2 separate regions of the Homo sapiens genome follow, and region 1 is linked to region 2. The links come from fine-mapping of genetic effects on gene expression. A gene starts in region 2. The other region holds a variant in brackets. All regions are shown on one strand. Distances are from middle to middle.

Region 1 (4,399 bases), 54 kb before region 2:
GGCCCTTTATGTTGAATCATTAAGAGTTGAATAGTCTATTTTTCATAAAATTGTATGATCTGAGCATTTTTCTTAATGCTTGACTTTAAGGCTATTAAAATTCAACATTATTAAATTAACATTAGTTATGCATATTTCAGGTTTATAAATCAAAAATGCACAAGTTTCCAGTGTCAACAAATTTCTCAGGTCCTCCAATTAAACTGAATTCTATGTAAAAATATGGCTTACTAATGTTTAAGATATAATTGAGGTTTATATACCTATTCATTCTCTCAACATTACTATCTTCTTTAACTATTATCCAATTAATTACTCTCCTAAAGATAGAATTATGGGAAAATCCCTTTTGTATTATTCGTTTGCATAAACTTAACAACTTTTTTGTTCCTCAATTACTGGGCTCTTATCAATTACATAAACCAATAATATGAAACTCTTTTTTATTGCAATCCTTTTTGGAACAAGCCAGGAAACAAAGGAACAGCTTATTTTTTCATAGATCTCTTTCCTTCCTCCTTAACTCACAATTGCAACATGATAGAGCTATCACTTCAGGGCATGTGATAGCGTAACACTCACCCAGAAGTAGAAATCCATCACTCCTATCTCTGATATATTAGTATGTTAACCTCTAGTTGGCAATGGCCCAAAGAGGGGCTCCAATCCAAATGTTTTCTATACAAACTGAGCATCCAATATTAAAAGAATCCGCATCTATGGCAAATAACCAAGTCATGTTCATTTTATTCAGTTTTTATGATGAAATGCAGATTTTTCATTATGAGGCAAATCCCTACATTCAAAAACCTAAATAGAATAATCCTTAAAAAATAATGTTTGCTGGTTAAAGCACTAACAATTTTTATTTTTATTTTTTATTTTTATTTTTTAAAGTTCCAAAATTTAATTTATACTTTAATCTACAAATCCAAAAATCTCAGTGAACCCCAATCAGGATATATACAACATAAACCTCAATTAGGCATATCATGTCAATGACAAAAGCATAAGTTGTTCAAGAAGTGATCTTAACATGACTTGCTTTCCATTAAAATAACTTGAGTCACTACTTGATGTCATAAACTTCAAATATGCTAACGTGCTAAGTATAAAAAGCAAAACTATTAACAAGTAGAAGAAAAATCAGTGGGAGAATGGGCATACTTTTACATGATCTGGTTGAAATACATTCTTTTTTTTTTTTATAAGTACCTCATCTTTCTAGCACTAACAATTTTTAAAAATTATTTCTGCCTTTGAATTAAGTATATTTTCATTTGGGCAACAATGGGATACATTTTCATTCACTTTTAGTTCAGTAGTTTCTCTCAAACAGGCAGTGTAGCCTCCATCGCTTAGATGATCTCTTTTGACAATCAGCTAAAGATACAGCATGTTAGTGATACACTTTCAGGGAAAGATCATTTAATAAATATTGATACCTATATTGTTAGCCTGAATCTCCCTCCTCCCTTCACCTCCCTACCCCATCGAATTCTTCCTTTTTCCCTTTCTTTAAGACTTCATGAAAAGATAAATAATGATAATGCTACCTATTCGTGATTACAACTACAAAACGTAACATTCTTTTAAAATCTGCATCTACTTCTTTCAAAGCTGAGAATTCTCCCTGGAAAACTGCTCATATAAACATACATACAACATTTTGCAAATAATTCCAGGGGTTCAAAGCATCTCTAAAATCCATCCATAGGTGTAGAAAGTGTCTGTGGTCTCCCAGAGTAAACACTGCTCCACAAGCCAATTCCCAC[A/C]CAGCCACCCATTCAACTCCCACCTAGCCCAAGGCTTGCCACTTCATCAGCCCTTCCTTCAGTCAATACTGCTGAGCCCAAATTAACTTGTGGCTCCTCATGAAGCCTTTCCAAGCTCCTTCAACTCATGTGGGTTTCTAACTTTTCTAACTTCCTCATAGACACACAGTCAAGTCTTACAACTTAGCCTTCAATTTCCCTCTAGATGATTCATACAGGTAAATTAGGCCCTTAAACCTAACTGGTAAACCCCTGAAAGCAGATACAATGTACCTCACATCTCTGCAGTTTCCCCCACAGCACCTGGCACAGTGCCAGAAGCTGAATGAATGTTTTTTATTGCATAATCAACCCATCCCTCTGTTCATCTTCTGGGTAGCCTCTGTCCCACCACCCCTACTTGCCCCACAAGGATGAGGCCAGGAATCACAACTTTATGAGTTGTATCTATGTTATGCAGTGATCAGGAGCTATCACTCACTTTTTTATTTATTCACTCAGCAGACATTTATTAAGTTCTTACTATATGTCAAGCACTAAGGTAGGTACTGGAAATACAAAAGCTACAGAAATGTAAGCAAATTATTGATGATGTGTTACATGCAATAACAGAGTTACATACAAGGCAGCAATAGAAAGGAGCAACTATCTATCTAGAAATGTTAGTGAAGTCATAGTGGAGAACAGGGTGCTTGAAATAGATGCTAAAAAAAATTGGTATGAATTTAAGCAAATGACCCAGGATGGGAAACACATCCAGGAGAGAAACAGCAAATGCAAAGACACAAATGCATGAAGATAAAATGTCTCTTATCCTCTCTTCACCTTCCCTGGTCAGCCCTGGCATGAGCCTCCATTTCAGTAAGGCCAATTCAGTTCACCTTTAGGATTATTTACATGAACTAAGTAATGGGAATATATATTTTTTAATTTACTAAGATGCACTGCCTAGCAAATATGAATTTCAAAATACTAAATAAATTTAGTATTGTGGGTTTGGAAATCCAATCCAAATCCAAATTATGGGTTTGGAAAGAAATACACGTGGCTGACTCAACATTCATTTTATTGGGTTATATATTTTTATAGAGAATATTTTTAATACAATTTTAATTTTAATGATCTGTCTGCCTTTAAGGGATAAAATAACATCAAGAAAAATTGCTGTAAAGTTATTTATTCAATGTTTCCATTCCTGTGTCATTTACCTCTCCAAGTGAATTTCAGTTTCTCTGTCTGCTGGCTTCGTAAACCTCTCTTTGGACTTTAACAACTATGGAATCATTTTTACTGTGAAGTTTAATATCCTGCTTTAAAATCCAAATATGATTCACATATTGCATCTTCAATATTTCTAAAGCAAAATGGTCTGCTTGGAAATTTTTTTAAAATGACTTTTCTCCAGAATACTTAAAAACATACCTTCCAATATCTGGAAAGGGGACTTATTTAAATACATGCATAATACTGTTTTCCTGCCTTTTATTTTAAGAAGACAAATTAATAATACTGCTGAACTAATTTTAACAAATACTAATGGTATTAAAATGCATCAATAGTCTGGCTTAAAAAAAAGTTGAAAAAATGTCAAGAATAAATGGTTGCAGAGGCGTCAGTCTTGGCACTTAATACTTTTTCAGAGACCTGAGCCTGTAATTGCTTTTAAAGACATGAAAGTCCTTGCTGTCTCTCTCTCTCTCTCTCTCTTCAGTAGATCCAGAGATTTCATTTTGAGAGCCTGGAGGATGCTCCAAAATTTATAATAAAGACATAAAGCCTCACTGATGGTGCTATATAAAAGGTGTTTTTACTGTTGTTAATCTCAGATACACATAAGCAAGCAAAAATTTCCCAAGGAAGTAATTTAAAACTATTTAGAGCTGTTTCATGAATCTCTGAGTTCAGATCTTGGCATCTTTGTAGCCATTGGAGTTCTGGGACCACAAAGTTGAAAACATCAAGAGAATGAAGCCCTGGATCCTCATACTAGAATGGTGAGATAATGATAATCAGGATAATATATTACACTTGTATTGTGCTTTATAATTGTAAGAATTATTTCCCAAGATTCATCTCATGTGATCATCCTAAACCACCAACAGAAATAACAAGCCTAGATTTCAGAAGCAAGACATCCAAGGTCATGTGGCCAGCTAGTGGCAAGACTAGAATCAAAACCCAGATCTTGCTGACACAAAATACCTTTTCCATTACACTAGATATAGAATGACCAATCAATCTCTCTACCCACTCTTCCCTCACTTTGTTTTCCATTTCTTAAAAGAATCATTGATTTTTTAAAATATATAGTATTTCAGGATCCTCAAACCTTCATTTTAAGTTTCCAGTTTTAAAAATTTATTCATTGGCCCGGTATCGAGTTCCTCTTTATTCAAAGTTAGCCTTAGTGGAAGAAGGGCAGTCCAAAGCAAATAAAGATGTTTTGCATTCACTTCTCTTTGTTCCCTTTTACATCATTGTTGAAGCACATACTGAATACCTCTCTCAACCAGCAAAAGTTTCTTCCCAGTCATTTGTTGAGCCTTGCTTCTCTGAGAAAGCACTGTGATGGTTTCCTTTTCAGGTTTCCACAGAAAATCTCCCAAAAAGATCTCAGGGAGCAT
Region 2 (4,399 bases):
ATTCTGAGCAATCAAAATAATTATACCCTTGAGCAATCGATTATTTAAATTTCTTTCACTATTCCCTTAAGCTGATTTCTACTCTGGGATTCTTTCATAGTTCTCAAATAAGAAAATAAAAAATTTCCTAAATAAGGCAATACAAAAGAATAGAAATGTAAGAGAAGAGATATATTAGCTCTTGAATCCCTGTTTCCATTTGCTGTCAATAGTGCCTCTAATGTTCGATTTTCTCTTCAAAGAAAAATCTTGATTTAAAAGAAGAAAAAGTACAATCACCTTTAACAGCTAAAGTATACTGATTAGCATCTACTAAAGTTAGCAAAGACTGAAACTGAAAAAAAATTGTAAAATCTTTATTCTAAGTTATATAACGCCATTCACCATAGTAATGATTTTATACTTTGGTATATGGCTTTTTAAAATAAATATTGCCAACAGGTAAAAATTTTTCCTTTGCTGTCTTAAGGCATTCCTAAGAGAATTTTTACCAGTGTGTGTTCATAACTTGAATGTTAATTTAAACAATGTTACTTCTATCACCTAAATGATATACTTATAGAAGAGTGGTTTAATTGGGAACAGAAAAACACCACATTGCTTCTTCCCAAGAAAAAGGGATGTATTCCATTCTCGAGGTCTCTCTCCCACTCTCTATTTATATATAATATACTGCATAGATAAATATACACACATTATATATGTATTTTTTTGAACTTAAAGAAGACTGGACATATGTATTTACATGTATATATCCAACAAATATTTAATTTTGAGATCTCTCTCCCTCTTCTGATTTATTATTCTCAGTATGATTCTCAAACTGTACGGTCTTTCACATTTCATTCATTCATCAAGCATGTATCGAGTCCCTTCTGCATGCTTAGCTTTTTGTCATATGGAAGGAAGATACAAAAGAAAAACTGTTTCTGCCCTTCAGAATCTTTCCATCTCTTCTAGGAAGGAGATAAAACACCATATATCATTAAGAAATTTATAAGACTAGTCCCAAAACCAATGGTACAAGCAACATGCATTTTACATTTATGTAGAATTTTAGAGCTTGGAAACACTTTCGTGATATATAATCCTAAGAACAATCTTGTAAAGTGCACATTATTAGCTCCATTTCAGTGATGAGGAATCTGAGACAGAATTTTAAGTGACATGTCTCGTTCAAACATTATGAGTGGAAGAGTCAACACTTAAGCCTGAGTTTTCTGATTCTAAGCCTAGTGCTCTTTTCAACACAGCACTGGAAACCAAAGATTGTGGTACACAACAGGGCAACAGCCAGTCTTCTGCTCGAGGTCCAACTAAACTGGACCCATACCGAGCAGTGTCCAGCCAAATGTCCAAATTAATTTTATCCTGCAAATATTTGTTCTTCAGTGTAATACACACAGCACAACTACCATTTCCTTCGTCTTAGTGCCTTTATCTCCTACATTCCAGAAATGGGGATGTCAAATATTTTTTTAAATCTGGCCTAGATGGAATCATATAAATCTCAAATCATAATATAAATCTTAAAGGTCTGGTTTCCACCAATCCTTCCACATTTTGTTTTCCCCCAGCACTAGAGAGCCTAACCTACCCTCACCCCTTTCGAGCATTCTTGCTCCAAACGACCACCTATTTTAAGATGTCAATGACCCTTTCCCAAATTCTACAAATTCACCCCAGTTTTGCCACCCGACCCCAGCGCCTGCCCGGACACGTTCCCCTCCCTCCCAATAGATTTGATACCGAGTTCAGGTTCTGCAGATCCCGTTGCGATGCTGTCACACAGCACTGACAGATAAGATTTGACCTTTCGACTCCGTCCTTGGGGACTTCCCGCTGGCCAAGAAGGGTAGTTCCAATCCCAGGAAACGGGCTTCCTGCTCAGGAACGCAGCCTCTAGCAGCGCACAGTCTGAGGCAATGTCTCCGGCAATTAGAACGATGCTGGGCGCCCGGGTGTGCATCACTCTGCCTCATACTCCTACCAACTGCAGGGCACTCGGTCCGGCAGCCAGTCCATCCCACCCACAGCCAAGTCCCAGCCAGCCGGACCTTACGCAGGACCCCGATGATAGGTCGTTGACGGCTGCAGCAAAAGCCAAGGCCACCTGCCGCTGCTGCCCATCCCCGCCAATCTGAGACCCCCTAGACTGGACCGCAGAAAAGCGTTTCTATGGGAACCCCCCCACCGAGAATCACGTGACGCAATCGGACGACCAATCGCTTCTTACCTCTGCCCGCGGTCCAGCTTTTGGCCCTCCCTCTCGCCCCCGCCTCCTTCGCCCAGCCCCGCCCCTTGCCTGCGGAGAGCCCGCGCCTGCGCGCTGTGTCCTGCGCGCTCCTTCCCTCGCGCGCGCTCTCCGTGGAAGAGCAGGGGCAGCGTGGGAGGCGCCAAGGGAGCGCGAACCTGAGGAGGAAGAAACGGGGCTAGCGCGCAGGCCCAGAACGGTCCGAGCCGCGGCAGTCGGCGACGCCTCAGAGCGGAAGAGGGAAGTGAATCAGGCGCCGGGTAGTGGGTTGCTGGGCTGGGCTTGCTGAGGTAGAGGCAGCGCCAAGAAGAGGCCTTTGCCGCTGGTCGGGATTGGGATGTCGAAGAACACAGTGTCGTCGGCCCGCTTCCGGAAGGTGGACGTGGATGAATATGACGAGAACAAGTTCGTGGACGAAGAAGATGGGGGCGACGGCCAGGCCGGGCCCGACGAGGGCGAGGTGGACTCCTGCCTGCGGCAATATCCTTGCATTCACCGCCCTCCCCACCCCAGCCCAGCCCAGCCCGCCCTTCTCCTGGGACCCGGGAGCCTGCAGGATCCGCGGGGCACCGGCGCGGAGCTGCCCTCTCAACCTGCGGCTTAACCTGTCTCTTTGGGATCGCCCGCTCTGAGAGGGCAAGGGGGAAGCCCCCGTTTCCTACCCAGTCGGCAGGAGACGCGAGGGTCCCACTCTTGGAAGCCTGCCCTCCCCCGCGCGCCTTCCACGCCCCCAGATTCCTCAGGTTGCACCCGAGTGCCTGCCTGCCTCGGGAACTGGTCCCGCCGGCCGCGCCCTCGCGGCGCTGGGGAAGGCGGCCCCGGCTGGTGGGGAAGGCTGGTGCCGAGCGCCTTAGTTTTTCTTCCTAGAACTCTGATTTCCTGGGGTCACATTAGCTCCAGAAATTTCTGATTGTGGGGAACCTGCATCTTTCCTTAGTGGTTTTGTTTTTTGTTGTGTTTTTGTTATTGGTAGCGTTAAGGTAGTTTATTCCTTACCGGGGGGCGGGGGGAGATGGGACTGTTCGAAAATTGAGGGTCCCTGTGCTTTCAGCCCATTGGCCTTTTTAAAAAAAAAAAAAAAAGAAGAAGAAGAAGGGGATTTGGCAAAATATACATTGTACAGAATTTGTTAACTGGGGGAGGGGAATGAATACAAAAAATACAAAACTCCTAGAAGGAAGCTTGGAGCCTTTTACCTGCTAAGAAAAGGACAATAGAAAAAACAACGGGGAATGCGTGTGGAGAATCCTTGGAAATATTTAAAATAAACCCCAATGAATAAGATAGAAGATGAGTCATTCGTATAAAGCAGAATCATTTTTGTAATCCTAAAATTGTTTCCATTTTAGTTAAAATATGGCAGTCAGTTCCCGGTTTCTGTTTTTGCATATTTGAATATTCATAACTTTGGCTTCGCATTTGCATTACATCTTTTTTAGAAAAATGTAAATGTTGCAAAAAAACCGAAGCTGTAGTTTTAGAAAATCTCAGACACTGAATTTGTATGCATTTCTAATTCTTGGGTGTATTCATAAGGAAGACTCTCAACAATGTCCTGTTATAGTGGGGAAATATGAGAGTGAAAATATTTAATGGCAACAATATCCTTTTTTAAAGGCACCTAAATAGAGCATTAGACATTTATCAATATATAGATAGTGCTTTGCCACAACTTTCACAATTAATTAGCTGTTGCTCTTTTGCATTATTTAAATACTTAAGTGCTTGGAGTTATAAAAAATGAGCTAATCTACATCAGGCATGCTTCTCTAGAAATCCCTGCAGCCTTGAAAATAACAGCTTGTCAACCAGAGATTTTGTGTAAGAACTTTTTCTTTAGAAAATAAATGGTGAACATGCTTCCTAAAAACATTATTTGTGATGGATAGATGGTGTTTTATGAAACCCCAGTGTATTTTAGGTAATTTGTGGTGACTTTTAAATGGTACTGCTGTATCCATATCAGTGGATCTGCTTTTTGATCAGTTCATCTTAAAATATAAAGATACTGTCTCTTCTTACCGTTACATACAGCCAGGAAAGACAGCCCTAGTGGTGGGGTACTAGAGTTGGAGGAACAAGTGAACTCTGTGGTTTTCCTTTTAGGGGAATGTTTGTACATTCTGACAGTCTGATTGGCCTTCT

Evidence for each region. PIP is the estimated chance that this variant, and not a neighbour inherited with it, causes the effect.
Region 1: its variant is fine-mapped to the expression of ARPC5 in whole blood (TOPMed, PIP above 0.99).

What each region holds. Positions count from the first base shown.
Region 1 is chr1:183,687,540-183,691,938 of GRCh38, reverse strand. It overlaps a transcript of RGL1 not described here. Among named protein-coding and RNA genes, the nearest start is that of APOBEC4, 36 kb to the right of the region's middle. The variant A/C (reference allele first, on the strand shown) is at 1,776.
Region 2 is chr1:183,633,852-183,638,250 of GRCh38, reverse strand. ARPC5 (actin related protein 2/3 complex subunit 5) reads left to right here and starts at 2,468. Exons shown (of 4, transcript NM_005717.4): 1 at 2,468-2,734. The coding sequence starts at 2,592. It also overlaps a transcript of RGL1 not described here. RefSeq lists silencers at 2,185-2,344, 2,825-2,874, 2,955-3,014, 2,966-3,184 and enhancers at 2,495-2,774, 2,772-3,272.